Regions from separate parts of the Homo sapiens genome. Here region 1 is linked to region 2. Evidence: fine-mapped expression QTL. A gene starts in region 2. The other region holds a variant in brackets. All regions are shown on one strand. Distances are between the middles of the regions.

What was found. PIP is the estimated chance that this variant, and not a neighbour inherited with it, causes the effect. A credible set is the group of variants that fine-mapping cannot tell apart.
Region 1: its variant is the best candidate, but not a certain one, in a credible set for the expression of TAF12 in whole blood (TOPMed, PIP 0.58).

Annotation. Positions count from the first base shown.
Region 1 is chr1:28,465,337-28,473,670 of GRCh38, forward strand. It overlaps PHACTR4 (phosphatase and actin regulator 4), which reads left to right. Exons shown (of 14, transcript NM_001048183.3): 5 at 349-513; 6 at 1,046-1,432; 7 at 8,218-8,334. Among named protein-coding and RNA genes, the nearest start is that of SNHG3, 36 kb to the right of the region's middle. The variant C/A (reference allele first, on the strand shown) is at 5,204.
Region 2 is chr1:28,639,671-28,648,004 of GRCh38, forward strand. It overlaps TAF12 (TATA-box binding protein associated factor 12), which reads right to left and starts at 3,397. Exons shown (of 6, transcript NM_005644.4): 1 at 3,322-3,397. It overlaps TAF12-DT (TAF12 divergent transcript), which reads left to right and starts at 3,586. Exons shown (of 2, transcript NR_146730.1): 1 at 3,586-4,093. RefSeq lists a silencer at 4,947-5,241 and an enhancer at 5,449-5,948.

The DNA of each region.
Region 1 (8,334 bases), 170 kb before region 2:
CTAGTCCCAGATACTCAGGAGGCTGAGGCAGGAGAATGGCGTGAACCCGGGAGGCAGAGGCTGCAGCGAGCCAAGATCATGCCACTGCACTCCAGCCTGGTCTGTGAGACCCTGTCTCAAATCACCAACTCTGGCCAGGCGCAGTGATTCATGCCATTTATCCTAGCACTTCGGGAGACCAAGGCGGGCTGATTGCTTGAGCCCAGGAGTTCAAGACCAGCCTGGGCAACATAGTGAGACCCTGTCTCAATTTAAAAAAGAGAGAGAAAGAAAAAAAGAAATTACTAACTCTTCTTTCTATCTGTTCATGCCAACTTCATCACTTTGTACTCTTCTTTCACCTTGCAGGTGGTGAGGATCCAGGAAAGCCAAGCGATGCCATGTTAAAGAATGGCCATACCACCCCCATAGGGAATGCCAGATCATCTAGTCCAGTCCAAGTAGAGGAAGAGCCAGTAAGATTAGCAAGTCTTAGGAAAGCTATTCCAGAAGAGGACCTAAAGAAACGACTAGGTAAGAAACTCTGGATTTTTGAGTTTAAGAGCCACGGGCCAGTTATTCTCCTTACATAAGGGGTTTGCAAGAGAACAGGGAAAAGTGAAATCTAGAGAGAATTACATTCTCCTTTAACAATACCTTAACTAGCAACTTCAAGGGGAATTTCCTCCCCCACCCCGCTTTTATTCACTAAATACCTAAATTTGTGATCCTCAAGAAGGGAAGAGGATGTTAAGTATCAGATACCTATAGGATTTTTTCCAGCTACACATTCCACTTCTTTCACCCAAGGAATTTTGTTGTGGCTCTCCTCCAGTAGCCTGGCCCTTGTGTGAAGAATCACTACCACAATGAGCATCTCTTAGTGAGCCTTTCTTACTGACATTTCTTAAGTATGGGGAGGTTGGGAGGCATTGAGAATGGTAACCTATAAGCTAATCTATAAATTAATTGGTGAAATTGGCCACAAATTCATAGATGTGTTAGCTTTTTCAGTTTCTCTTGTTACTCTCTCTTCCCTTTTTATACCATACATGTTATTACACAGGCTCAACTGGAAGCCAGCCTAATTCTGAAGCAGAGTCTGTTCCTGAGAATGTACCCAAACCACCTTTACTTCCTCCCAAAAGACCCTTGTCCTCTTCTCATGAAGCAAGTGAAGGGCAAGCAAAGGATGCCACTTCCTCTGGCGGCACGGCAAGGTTCATCATCTCCACCTCCATCACCACAGCACCCGCTGCCACCACTGCTGCCACAAGCCTTGCAAAGACTGTTAATCTCTCTGTCACCCCTTCCCCAGCACCCAGGACTCTGCCTGCTGCTCCTGCCAGCACTAACACTACTGCTACCCCAAGCCTCACTCATATGGTCCCTGCCAAGCAGCCCCCTATCCCTCCCCCTAAACCAGCTCACAGAAATAGCAACCCTGTCATTGGTAAGTAAGTCTTTAGGCTTCCAGTGTTTTGGGTTTGGTTTGATGTTGGATGGTTATTTTATTTGATAACTGGTACAACATTGATTTGGTCTGTGAGAATTTTCCATATCTTGTCCCTTTGAATGACCTCAATATGGAGAAAAGTCTTAGGTTAAGAAAAAATAGGCCAGGTGCGGTGGCTCACGCCTGTAATCCCAGCACTTTGGGAGGCCGAGGTGGGTGGATCACAAGGTCAGGAGATTGAGACCATCCTGGCAACATGGTGAAACCCCATCTCTACTAAAAATACAAAAAATTAGCCAGGCGTGGTGGCACGTGCCTGTAGTCCCAGCTACTTGGGAGGCTGAGGCAAGAGAATTGCTTGAACCCAGGAGGCGGAGGTTGCAGTGAGCCAAGATTGTGCCAATGCACCCCAGCCTAGGCGACAGAGAGAGACTCCGTCTCAAAAAAACAAAAACAAACAAACAAAAAAAGTCATGAAACTGAGGCAGATGGCCATAAATGTAAACATCACTAAGATTAGATTTAAGTTTTGGGGGTTTTAACCTATTTTTTAATCTAATATTTAATCTGTTTTTCTAAAACAATGATTCCAAAACACTATACATATTTGTGTGTGTGTGTGTGTGTGTGTGTGTGTGTGTGTGTGTAATTGGACTGGATATGTGAAAACCATAACAGATTCCACCTGCATGGAATTATCTGTGGCACTTGCTGAAAAATTAGAATAATGCCTCAGCTCACAAGGGGCAAGGCAAACTTTTCAAATGAAAATTTTTAAATCTACTTAAAACTACCTATGCCTTCCATAAGCATTAATGAGTCTAGTAGATAAAAGGATGATTCTGTAGATGCCAGTGGAATTTGGGATTCAGTGTCTGGCATAGTTATCTTCACAGGGAACTGCAGAAGCTATTACTTAAATTGTTCTGATAAAATCATGTTTTATCTTGGGAGAATTAAGAATGCTATTCTTATGTTAAAATAAGTGATGGTAGAGAAAGCAGGGAATATAATCAGTAAAATTTGTATGGGTTTAGTAAATTTTTTGCATTTACCCAAAGTTCTATTTAAGTCTACTTTCTTTATATAAATGCACAATTTCTTAGAAGAATTTTCAAGAAAGGGAGAGGAAAGCTAATGAGTGCTTCAAAGCTAATAAAAATATAGTTTTTTCAGGAAAAATGATACTAGGCTTAGTATTGCTTAAAGTTCTTGTTCACGATTGAACGAATGAATAAAAACTATACTCATTAAATATTTAATATCACCATGTTGGGTGGAGTGATTCAAACCTTGAAAAACAGGCTTAGAATATTTTATGAGTATGACAGTTTGGAGTAGCTTGATGAAAACAGGATGAAGTTGTTATTACCACCACTTTGGATGGATAGTGTCATGTTGACTTATCTGTGAGGAACTTGGGGAGCTTTCACATACTTATTTTCAAAACTACCTTGTGCTGCAGGAAACCAATTTTATCTTTTCCATAGGTAGGGCAATTAGAACATGAAGACATTGTGACTCATTCAAGGTTGTAGGCCAGGCGCAGTGGCTCATGCCTGTAATCCCAGCACTTTGGGAGGCAGAGGCGGGTGGATCACCTGAGGTCAGGAGTTCAAGACCAGCCTGGCCAACATGGTGAAACGCCATCTCTACTAAAAATACAAAAAATTAGCCGGGCATGGTGGTAGGCACCTGTAATCCCAGCTACTCGGGAGGCTGAAGCAGGAGAATTGCTTGCACGTGGGAAGCAGACGTTGCAGTGAGCTGAGATTGTGCCACTGCATTGCAGCCTGAGCAACAAGAGCAAAACTCCATCTCAAAAAAAAAGAAGAAGGTTGTAGTTAGTGAAAGATAGAAACTGAACATAGGCTTTTCAACTCTCAGGTCCAGACCTCTGTTCCTTACAGTAGTGTTTGCAAACTGGTGTTCTCCTCAGGATCACCTAGAAAGCTTATGATAACAGACTGCTGGACACTACCCGTAGAGTTTCTGATTTTAGTAAGCCTGGGATGGGCTTGAGAATTTGCCTTTCTAATAGGTTCCCAGATGACACTGATGCTGCTCTCCAGGGAGCACACATTAAGAGCCTCTGCTCTACACCAGTGGCATACCACCCTTTTCAAGTTAAGGCAACATATAAAATGATAATTTGTGTATGATACCCTGGACTAAACTGCAGAGCTCATTCTTAGCTTGAGGTAAATAGCCCAAAACAATAGACCTTGTAACTGAGGAATCAGTATTAGTCCATGAGGGGTCCTCAACAAAAGAAGAAAAATAGAACAGTTCACAGAGCATTTCTTAGAGCTAAATAGATTTAATTTAAAGGACTCTCTTTTATTCTAAAATTACAACCTTCCTAATCCTTTGGTGTTAAAATGCCATTTCTTTCACAAAAGGATTATGATCATAAATGGTTTACTTAATATCAAGCCTTATTTGGAAATCTTAGAAAATGACAACCTCAAAAAAACACTAGAAAAAAAACCAACAATCTGAGGTTGATCAAGATTTTTGTTATTGTTTTGGTCACTGAAATCCAAAAGTTTGGAAATCATTGCTTCAGAAGTACTACTGTCTTCTCATCCATATAACATGGAGTATTACGACTAAGGAAAAACCACCAGCAATAGCTGAACGGGTGAAAGGGAATTATTACCCATCCCAGAAACACTCTGAAATTTTTCCACAGAACTACAGCCAGATGCTGTTGTCAGGGTATATATACCAGAATTTACTTCCTTAACATATATGCCTTCCTCAAATTACCAAATAGAATTTATTTTATTAATTCAAAAGTAAAAATATTCATTTATGGTCTCATCAGGAATGAGTTTTGTTGTAGATGGAATAGCTAACAGCTATTTTTAGAGAATCAGCAAAAATCCAATCTTTCCAAAAATATCTCTTTCACTGCTCCTAAAATTCACATTTTTAGAATCTTTTTGTGTGTGTATGCAGTGTTTTTCTAGAAAGCCTTTTTTAAAATTTATTTATGGGGCCAGGCATGGTGGCTCATGCCTGTAATCCCAGCACTTCGGGAGGCCGAGGTGGGCAGATCGCTTGAGGCCCAGAGTTTGAGACCAGCCTGGGCAACATGGTGAAACCCCATCTCTACTAAAAATACAAAAAATGATCTGGGTATGATGGTGCATGCCTATAATCCCAGCTACTCAGGAGGCTGAGGCAGGAGAGAATCACTTGAACCCGGGAAGTGGCGGTTGCAGTGAGCCAAAATTGCACCACTGTACTCCAACCTAGGCAACAGAGCGAGACTCTGTCTCAAAAAAAAAAAAATTATTTATGATGAGAGACATTAAAACATTACAAAATTAGGCCAGGCACAGTGGCTCAATGCCTATAATCCCAGCATTTGGGGAGGCCGAGGTGGGAAGATCACTTGAGGCCAGGAGTTCAAGACCAGCCTGAGCAACGTAGCAAGACCCCATCTCTATAAAATATTTAAAAATTAGCTGGGCATGGTGACATGTGCCTGTAATTCTAGCTACTTGGGAGATTGAGGTAAGAGGATTGGGTAAGCACAGGAGTTCAAGGCTGCAGTGAGTTATGATTGCACCACTGCACTCTAGCCTGGGTAACAGAGCAACATCCTGTCTCTAAAAAAAAAGAAAAGGCTAGGTACAGTGGCTCACACCTGTAGTACCAACACTTTGGGAGGCTGAGGCAGGTAGATTACCTGAGCCCAGGAGTTTGAGACCAGCCTAGGCAACATGGAGAAACCCATCTCTACAAAAAATACCCCCC[C/A]CAAAAATTAGCCGGGCATGGTGGCACATGCCTATGGTCCCAGCTACTTGGGAGGCTGAGGTGGGAGGATCACCTGAGCCCAGGGAGGTCAAAATTGCAGTGAGCCGTGACTGCGCCACTGCACTCCAGTGACACAGTGTGAGACCCTGTCTAAAATAAATTAATTTAATTTAAAAATAAAAATAAATTTAAAAAGAAAAGAGGCTGGGTGTGGTGGCTCACATCCATAATCCCAGCACTTTGGGAGGCTGAGATAGGTGTATCACTGGAGCCCAGGACCTCAAGACCAGCCTGGGCAGCATAGTGAGACCTTGTCTCTACTAAAAATTAAAAAAATTAGTCAGGCATGGGGGCATGGGCCTGTAGTCCTAGCTACTTGGGAGGCTGTAGCAAGAGGATCACTTGAACCCAGGAGATCGAGGCTGCAGTGAGCTATTGTTCATGCCACTGCACTCCAGTCTGGGCAACAGAGGGAGACCTTGTCTCAAAAGAAAAAAAAAAAAAGAATTATAAAATTAGCTAGCCTTGGCCGGGCAAAGCGGACATGCCTGTAATCCCAGCACTTTGGGAGGCCGAGGCGGGTGGATCACCTGAGGTCGGGAGTTCAAGACCAGCCTGACCAACATGGAGAAACCCCATCTCTACTAAAAATACAAAAAATTAGCCGGGCGTGGTGGCACATGCCTGTAATCCCAGCTACTCAGGAGGCTGAGGTAGGAGAATCACTTGAACCCAGGAGGTGGAGGTTGCAGTTAGCCGAGATGGCGCCATTGCACTCCAGCCTGGGCAACGAGTGAAACTCCATCTCAAAAAAGAAAAAAATAATTAGCTAGCCTTTTACTTTGAACATCTCCAATTTTGGAGATTTAGGACAAATACAGTTTTATTTAAGGGAAGTTTTTGAGAGTGTTTGAGAATACTGAGTGGGATGAAACTAAAGGGTTTGAGTAGAAGGTTAGAGGTTGGTGATCAAAAGAACTACTTTTTTTTTTTTTTTCCTGTCAGCAGGGAAAAAATAACTACCCTTTAATTACTTTACCAGTTTTACTCCTGTGTGATCTGATGATCCACTTCTTACAGGTCATCTGGAGCCCTCCAAAGGGACTTTGCTGAAACAACACCAACACCTTTGCTGAGTCATTGTGGGCTTTGGTGAAACTATAGGAATATATACTGTCATGATACAGGGTGAAGGCTTCTCATCTAATAAACATATATTGAGGGTCCACTAGATGCCAGGTACTGTGCACAGCCCTGTGGATGATATGTTGATGGAGACAAGGTTGCCCTGCCATCAAGGAGCCCATGATATAGTGGAGAGTGAACATGGGAAGCTGAGGTGCAAAGGGAACATAAGAGGTGTGCATACCAATAAAAATTAGAGACAGTAGGCCGGGCGCGGTGGCTCACGACTGTAATCCCAGCACTTTGGGAGGCCGAGGCGGGCGGATCACGAGGTCAGGAGATTGAGACCATCCTGGCTAACATGATGAAACCCCGTCTTTACTAAAAATACACAAAAAATTAGCCGGGAGTGGTGGTGGGCGCCTGTAGTCCCAGCTACTTGGGAGGCTGAGGCAGGCGAATGGTGTGAACCCGGGAGGCAGAGCTTGCAGTGAGCCGAGATGGCACCACTGCACTCCAGCCTGGGCGACAAGACTCCGTCTCAAAAAAAAAAAAAAATTAGAGACAGTAGGATGCAGTCAAATAGTCAGAGACTTGGATACCAGCTGAGTCCATGCCAGTTTGTAGTATGATCTTGGGCAAAGTCACCTAGCTTCTGTGGCCTTGCCTTTTCCTTCTGAAAAATGGTAAAGATGCTATATTTTTTCCCCTGTCACCTCAGGTGGTATAAGGAGAATATGACTTCAAGGACAAAAAACACTTTGATTTCTTCAAAGGACTTTGCAATTGCTATAAAAATTCAAGATGTCAGTATTGACAGTTTTATAACACAGAGCTAAGATATCTAGATACCATTATCAGGATATGGTAACAATACCCACTAATACTTATTTTATGCTATCTGAATGTTTAAATTTTTTAATGGAGTACTGTTATACAAAATAACTTTTTTTTTTTTGAGTCAGAGTCTTGTGCTGTCCAGCCTGGAGTGCAGTGGCATGACCTTGACTCACTGCAGCCTCCGCCTCCCAGGTTCAAGAGATTCTCGTGCCTCAGCCTCTCCTGAGTAGCTGGGATTATAGGTGCCCACCACCACACCTAGCTAATTTTTGTAATTTTTTTTTTTTTTTTTTAGTAGAGACGGGGTTTCACCATGTTGGCCAGGCTGGTCTCGAACTCCTGACCTAAGTAATCTGCCCACCTCGGCCTCCCAAAGTATTGGGATTACAGGTGTGAGCCACCGTGCCAGCCACAAGATAACTTTTTATCAGATTTTTTTTGTCTCTATTCATATTAACTACACCAAGATCAAGTTACAAAAAGTTGTCAGCCGGGTGCCATGGCTCACGCCTGTAATCCCAACACTTTGAGAGGCCAAGGCAGGTGGATCATTTGAGGTCAGGAGTTCGAGACCAGCCTGGCCAACATGGTGAAAGCCCGCCTCTACTAAAAATACAAAAATTAGCCGGGCCGTAGTGGCGTGCGCCTGTAATCTCAGCTACTTGGTAGACTGAGGCAGGAGTATCGCTTGAGCCCGGGAGGCAGAGGTTGCGGTAAGCCAAGATCGCGCCACTGCACTCCAGTCTGGGCGAGAGAGTGAGACCCTGTCTCAAAAAAAAAAAAAAAAAAAAAATTGTCATATCTGTTGCCATAGCAATGAAGTAAGCTACTCATCAGTCTTCCTACACCTCTGTACATTTATTAAGCCTTCTATTTGAATAAATATAAACTTCATTTCAGGATAAAATATATAGGGAATGGCAAAACTATGAAATTATTTAACTTGCTTAAAAGATTAAAACTGAACTCAACTTTAATTCTAGGCCCTGGGCCGGCCCTTCAAAGCATTGGAAAGTCGTGAAATTGATGTGTTGCTCTCTCTTTTCCAGCTGAACTGTCCCAAGCAATAAACAGTGGTACATTGTTATCAAAACCGTCCCCACCCTTACCACCTAAGAGAGGCATTCCATCAACCTCAGTACCCACCTTGGAGTCTGCTGCTGCCA
Region 2 (8,334 bases):
TAAGTTGGTATAAGTTAGTTTTGATCATTTATATATAATAGGCGCTTGCAAATAGTACAGGCTAACCCTGGGGAAAAAATAGTAGTTTTAACTAAGCCCAATTCCCCCAAACATCTAGTTCATGATATAATTAACTGGAAAATCAATCAAATTTAAGCCCTTGTTTTTCAAATTACTTTTTTTTTTTTTCAGACAGAGTCTCATTCTGTTGTCCAGGCTGGAGTACAGTGACACAATCTCGGCTCATTGAACCTCCACCTCCAGGATTCAAGTGATTCTCTCCCACCTCAGCCTCCAGAGTAGCTGGGACTACAGGCATGTGCCACCATGCCCAGCTAATTTTTGTATGTTTAGTAGAGACGGGGTTTTGCCATGTTGGCCAGGCGGGTCTCGAACTCCTGATCTCAGGTGACCCGCCCGCCTTGGCCTCCCAAAGTGCTGGGATTACAGGTGTGAGCCATCATGCCCAGTCCAAATTAGTCTTTCTTGGCCTCCTAAATCTAAAATTAAATGTCTTTCTACATTGCAAGGAAAAGCTCTACAAAGTTCCCGTTTTTCTATCTTGAATAATCTATGCTTCTGTGAAAACAGAATTTAGTTCTCAAATGCCACAATACATAAGTACCCTAATATGTTATAGTCCTTGACATTTAGAGGAGCCTTAAGAAGGAGGAGATGCTTTCATTCAATTATATGTTTTGTATAACGATTACTTCTATTTTGCTGATGGACAAACTGAGAGGAATCCACTTAGAAGAGTAGAAAAAAGTTTTAGAGGCACATGTAACTGGGGTTGGGTCACTGTGTGATTTCAGGCAAAGTAACCTCTCTAAACCTATTTCATTATCTGTACAACGGGACTGACAATATCTAACTTGTGGGGCTGTGATAATTAAATCATAGAATACTCGATAGTGCATAAGCTGTGCCTCGTTAGTCTGAGTAGGTTTCAGAAAAAGATATTAATATTGAAGGAAGTGACTGGTGCAAGTCTCCCCACCATCCTTATCCAAAAGCAGCCATCCCTAGTAAATGTTTGCACTAAAAATACAGGACACACTTATTTATGACTTTCCAAACAGCTTATTAAATAAATAAATAACACTGAGCTTTATTTAAAGGTTCCAGCCAGGTGCAGTGGCTCATGCCTATAAGAACATTTTGGGAGGCCAAGGCGGGAGAATCATTTGAGGCCAAGAATTCAACAGCAGCCTAGGCAACACAGCCAAACACTGTCTCTACAAAAAAACTTAAAAATTAGCTGGGTGTAGTGGCTCATACCTGCAGTCCCAGGAGGCTGAGGCAGGAGGAGTGCTTGAGCCCAAGAATATAGGTTGCAGTGAACTATGATTATGCCACTGCACTCCAATATGGGCAACAGAACAGGACCCTGTCTCAAAAACACAAAAATAAAAATAAAGGTTTCCTTACTATTAAGTGACATTTACTGTATTAATGTCAATACAGTAACAACACTCAAATTATCAGAAACTGTAAAAATTTCCAGTTTTTACTGGAAATAAAAACTGGGCCGGGCGCAGTGGCTCATTTCTATAATCCCAGCACTTCGGGAGGCTGAGGCGGGCGGATCACTTGAGATCAGGAGTTCGAAACACAGCCTGGCCAACATGGCAAAAACCTGTCTCTACTAAAAATACAAAAAGTAGCCGGGCATTGTGGCACACACCTGTAATTCCAGCTACTTGAGAGGCTGAGGCAGGAGAATCGTTTGAACTGGGGAAGCAGAGATTGCAGTGAGCCGAGATCGTGCCACTGCACTCCAGCCTGGGTGACTCTGTCTCAAAAAAACAAAACAAAACAAAACAAAAACAAAAACTGCAAGGGGGGTGAGGTGACTCATGCCTGTAATCCCAGCACTTTGGGAGGCCAAGGTGGGAGGATCACTTGAGCTTAGGAGTTTGAGACCAGCCTGGGCAATATAGTGAGACCCTGTTTCTACAAAAAATTTAAAAATTAGCAGGGCGTGGTGGCACACGCCCGTAGTTCCAGCTACTCAGGAGGTATAGGTGGGAAGACTGCTTGAGCCTAGGAGGTTGGAGGTGCACGGGGCCAAGACTGAGCCGCTGCACTTCAGACTGGGCGACAGAGAGAGAACCTGTCTCAAAAAAAAAAAAAAAAAAAAAATTCCCTCCTGAGTTTGAAGATAAAGCAAAGATTCTAGAAGCATTTAAGGAACATTAACCAAGCATCTCATTTGCTACGCACAGAAGGGTACTGTATTAAAATTATGATCTAACTAACCATTGCCTCACTGTAATCCTAAGCCTCTTTGAACCTTAGCCTTCTTAAATGTAAAATAGGAGTTTTTAAAAGATGATCTTTTGGGACTCTTCCATCACTGACATTCTTTTATTTGAGATGCAGAGATCTGTGCTCATTCAGGGTTGAGTGGAATGGGATTTAAAGCACTTATCAAGTACATAACTGAGTTCCAACTGTTTTCAACTTCACATCTGATTCCCAAGAATGAAGCAGAAAATGAAGATGTTTGCATATGGGCTTCCTAGATTGAGTATCTGACACAAGAAAAGCTTGCCAAGAGCCAAGTAGGCAGTGCGAAGGAGAAGTTGTCTTCCCCTGAATACGTCCTTTATCTCTCTGGGTTCAGGGAATACTGTGAAAAAATGGATCACTAAATCTTTTCCAAACCCTTTCCCTTTACTTTGTAGGCTGATCTCATATCCATGGTCCCTTAGATCCAAGGCTTTTAGGAGCTTGGGTACTCACAGCCCTGTTCCGAGACTCAGGAACTCGGAGTCTCAAAGCCCGGATCCCGTCCCCAAAGAAGCCCCAGTCTTCACTGCCCGCTTCTGTTCCCTTCCAAACTCAAGTTTTCTCTGTCTGCTTCTGCCCCTCAGGAACCTAAGTCTTCGCTGCCCCGTTTCTGAATCCTTAGGAGCCCGGGTCTTCACTGTCCCGCTTCTGCCTCTTAGGAGCCCAAGTCCTCACCGCTCCACTTTTACCTCTCCGGAGCCTGTGTCTTCACGCCCCGTTCCTTTCTGACCCTTTCCTCGTAGGAGTGCGGGTCCTCATAATCCTGCTCCTCTCAGACCACTTTCCCTCAGATGCCGGAGAACTCGCATCCGTCCCCGTTCCCTAAGTCCCGTCTTAGAGCCCGGGTCCCCACAGCCGCGTCTTCTCCGAGCCTGATCCTCTCAGTCAGTCCCTTCCCAAGAGCCTGAATCCTCACAGCCCCGTCTCGTCCACAACCTGGTCCTTCGAACACTGACCCACTGTAGGTCTGGGTCCTGACTCCCTCCTCCCGCTCTTGTTCCTCAACTGCCAGGGCCCAAGACTCACAGGCAGCAGCGTCTATCTCCCCATGATATGCAGAGACTGCCCCAGTGAAGCGTTCGTCTCAGCAGCCGGTCCGACTGCGCGGCCCTCCCCGACTACTTCCGGCACCGCTCCCCGCCTCCAACCCGGAAACGCGCGGCTCTTCCGGCCGGCGGGCGCGCGCCTCGCTTGCGCAGGCGCAGACTGCCCTCCGACACGTGGTGGCGATATTGAGCTGTGTGTAGGTACACCCTGCAGCTTGCGCTTTTAACTGCTTGTGGTTGAGTGGCAGCATGAGCGAGCTCTGCGTATTCCAACCCGGCGTTAAGAATCCTTCACTAGCTTTTCTTCCCGACGCTGCTTATTTATCTATCGGTAGCATGACGGGTAATTGACGCCCTCGGATGGCTTTGAGGTCGCCATTTTTGGTTGGTGCCTTTGTCTTGGTGTCAGGACTGGGATATCATCTGGGACACATTACCCCACAGGTATCCTGTTGGACCTCAACGAGGAAGTTGGCAACAGAGGAACCAGGAGATGAGAGAGATCGGTTGGTTGTGCCTGTGAACTGGCAATTCAGTAGTAACAATTGAGTGCTTACTGTTTGCCGGGAATTGTGCTAATCCGCTTACCTCCGTTACGCCATTTAATCATTTAGAGGAGACCTGTGAGAGATTAAGCAAAGTTCTAGCTAATAAGTGCAGAGCCTCAGCTTGAACTCAGAACTCACTACTAAGCCAAAGCCTGTCCTGTAGCATTCTCTAATGCTTTCAGTTTTTCGGCTGTCAGATGCTTGGTGAGAACTGCTGTTATGTGGCTCACGCCTGTAATCCCAGCACTTTGGGAGGCCGAGGAGGGTGGATCACGAGGTCAAGAGTTCAAGACCAGTCTGGCCAAGATGGTGAAACCCCGTCTCTACTAAAAATACAAAAAATTAGCCGGGCGTGGTGGCATGCGCCTGTAATCGCAGCTACTCCGGAGGCTGACGCAGAGAACTGCTTAAACCTGGAGGGGCGGAGGTTGCAGTGAGCCGAGATCGCGCCACTGCACTCCAGCCTGGGCGACAGAGCGAGACTCTGTCTCAAAAAAAAAAAAAAGAGAACAGCTGTTATTTTTTACTGTATGCTGGAATGTTAGGCATGCAAGTAAGACCCAATTCCAGCATCTGTAAGGTTCACAGTAAGATGGAGAAGAACCCACAAACACACCAAAAATTGTATAAAGAGCTGTGACAGGCCAGAGTGAGCCACATAGAAATTAGGAAGAGGTGCCCAGATTGGTGCGGCATCCTGCCCTGTCTTTATATCTTCCTAATCCTCATCCTACCACGTTCCCAGTCCACCCTCTACACTGCCACCCAATCCAAATTCTCAGATTCAAGTCCTCATGAACATTGGGCTCTAAGCTGTATTCCTAGCCTTATTTCCTTGCCACTGCTCTCCATTCTTTTTAGGGTCCGGCATACCACTTTTTGTTGTTGAATGCCTATACATCTTTTTTAAGACCCAGGTTGAATGTATATACGTTCATTTGACAAGTGTTTGAGTCTCATTGTGTGACAAGCCTTTTGCTATGTGCTGAGTACATAACTGGTGGCTAAGACGGATGATCTCTGTCCTTAGAAAGTTTGCAACCTAGAGTGGGAAACAGACCATTAGCAACTGCACAAAAGGGTGATAGAAGAGAATACTGGAATAAGCCAGACTTATCTAGCTGGCTGATGGCCTGAGCCATGGTCTTCAGTAAGGAAAACACTTACTCAAGGACCAAGATGGCCAAGGTGGCTGGAGCTTTGGTAACCGGGAAAGACAATGAGTTTGGAGAGGTAGGCAGGGGTTTGTTATAGTCTGGACCTTTTAGCCTAGACTATGATGGGGACTTGAGATTATATTCAGTATGCAATGGGAAGGTGTTGGAAGAACGGTGAAATTATGGCGATTGTTAAATGATACAGGGTCTCACTCTGTCACCAGGGCTAGAGTGCAGTGGCACAATCATAGTTCACTACAGCCTCAAACTCCTGTGTTCAAGCGATCCTCCTCCACCTCAGCTTCCCAAGTAGATGAATTTTCTTTTTTTTTTTTTTGAGACGGAGTCTCGCTGTTTCACCCAGGCCGGACTGCAGTGGAGCTATCTCGGCTCACTGCAAGTTCCGCCTCCCAGGTTCATGCCATTCTCCTGCCTCAGCCTCCCAAGTAGCTGGGACTACAGGCGCCCGCCACCGCGCCCGGCTAATTTTTTGTATTTTTAGTAGAGATGGGGTTTCACCATGTTAGCCAGGATGGTCTCGATCTCCTGACCTCGTGATCCGCCTGCCTTGGCCTCCCAAAATGCTGGGATTACAGGCAGGAGCCACTGCGCCCGGCCTCTTCTTTTTTTTTTTTTTCTTTAAGAGATAAGGACTGGACACCCTGGCTCACGCCTGTAATCCCAGCACTTTGGGAGGCTGAGGCAGGAGGATCACGAGGTCAGGAGATAGAGATCATCCTGGCCAAAATAGTGAAACCCTATCTCTACTAAAAATACAAAAATTAGCTGGGCGTGGTGGTGCACGCCTGTGACCCCAGCTACTCAGGAGGCTGCGGAAGGAGAATCGCTGGAACCCGGGAGGTGGAGGTTGCAGTGAGCGGAGATTGAGCCAGTGCACTCCAGCCTGCGTGACGGGAGCAAGACTCCATCTCAAACAAAACTACAACAACAACAAAAAAACAGATAAGGCCAGGCCAGGCACTGTGGCTCACGCCTGTAATCCCAGCATTTTGGGAGGCCGAGGCAGGTGGATCACTTGAGGTTAGGAGTTTGAGACCAGCCTGGCCAACAGGGTGAAACCTACTAAAAATATTTTAAAAATTAGCCGGGTGTAGTGGCGCGTGCCTGTAGTCCCAAGCTACTCAGGAGGCTGAGGCATGAGAATCGCTTAAACCTGGGTGGTAGAGGTTGAAGCGAGCCGAGATCGTGCCACTGCACTCCAACCTGGGCAACAGAGTGAGACTGTCTGGGAAAAAAAAAAAAAAGAGAGATAAGGTCAGATGTGGTGGCTTTACACCTGTAATCCCAACACTTTGGGAGGCGCAGCAGGAGGACTGCTTGAGCCCAGGAGTTTGACCGGCCTGGGCAAGATAGGGAGACACTGTCTCTAAAAAAAAAAAAAAAAAATTAGCCTCAGCATGGTGGTGTGTACCTGTAGTCCCAGCCACTCAGGAGACTGACAGGCAGGAGGATCTGCTTGAGCCTAGGAGTTCCAGGCTGCAGTGAGCTATGATTGCACCACTGCATTCCAGCCTGGACAACAGAGCAACACACTGTCTCAGGAAAAAAGACAGAGAGAGAGATAACACTGGTGGATGATAGGAAGAGCAATTGACAGCACCATCTCTGGGCTTCTCACAAGTTTATACAACACATCTGCTTCCTATTACAATGTAAGAGCTGTTTATTTATCTCCTTTCTCTTGTGACTTCTACTTTGTAAAGAGCAGGGAACTCCATGTATTATTAAAATATATTAAAGAAAGTAAAATACCTAACAGTCTATATTTTGTGTTGAAAACATTTTACTTTATTATTTATTTATTTTTTTTTGAGACGGAGTTCGCTCTTGTTGCCCAAGCTGGAGTGCAATGGCACAGTCTCGGCTCGCTGCAACCTCTGCCTCCCAGGTTCAAGTGATTCTCCTGCCTCAGCTCCCTAGTAGCTAGGATTACAGGCACCTGCCACCACACTCGGCCAATTTTTTTTTTTTTTTTTTTTGAGACAGAGTCTCACTCTGTCGCCCAGGCTGGAGTGCAGTGGTGCAATCTCGGCTCACCGCAAGCTCCACCTCCTGGGTTCACGCCATTCTCCTGCCTCAGCCTCCCGAGTAGCTGGGACTACAGGCACCCGCCACCACACCCGGCTAATTTTTTGTATTTTTAGTAGAGACGGGGTTTCACCGTGTTAGCCAGGATGGTCTCGATCTTCTGACCTAGTGATCTGCCCACCTCGGCCTCTCAAAGTGCTGGGATTACAGGCGTGAGCCACCGCACCCGGCCAATTTTTTGTATTTTTAATAGAGACAGGGTTTCACCATGTTGGCCAGGCTGGTCTCAAACTCCTGATCTTAGGTGATCCACCCACCTCAGCTTCCCAAAGTGCTGGGATTACAGGCATGAGCCACCATGCCTGGCCTGAAAACATTTATTTTTATATATATACGATGTGTACATACATAGAAAGCAGTCTGGCAAGATAAACACTAAACTGTTCACAGTTTGGAGGAAGCATTTTCACATTTTATAACATCTCTGTGCTGTTTCAATTTCTTTACAATTGTCACATATTGTTTTTTTTTTATTTTCTTGAGACAAGATCTTCATCTGTCACCTAGGCTGGAGTGCAGTGGCATGATTATGGCTCACTGTAGCCTTGACTTCCCTGGCTCAAGCAATCCTTCTGCCTCAGCCTTTGGGGTAGCTGGGACCACAGGCCCATGCCACGATGCCCAGTTAATATTTTATTTTGGGGTAGGGACGAGGTCTCTATATGTTGCCCATTGTGGTCTCAAACTCCTGGGCTCTCAAAGTGTTGGGATTACAGGCATGACCCACAGCACCCGTCCATCATTATCCATAAAAAAAATGGGAACAGGCCGGGCACGGTGGCTCACGCCTATAATCCCAGCACTCTGGGAGGCTGAGGCGGGCGGATCACAAAGTCAGGAGATCGAGACCATCCTGGCTAACATGGTGAAACCCCCGTCTCTACTAAAAATACAAAAAATTAGCCGGGCATGGTGGCAGGGGCCTGTAGTCCTAGCTACTTGGGAGGCTGAGGCAGGAGAATGGCGTGAACCCAGGAGGTGGAGCTTGCGGTGAGCCGATATCGCGCCACTGCACTGCAGCCTGGGCGACAGAGCGAGACTCCGTCTCAAAAAAAAAAAAATTGTGTTGATAAAGATCTACTTCAGTCATCTGAGGTACAGTATTTCATTTTTCACATTAATGCTATGCTGTACCTTATTCTACAACTCTTTTCACTCGATTTAAAAAAAAAAAATTCT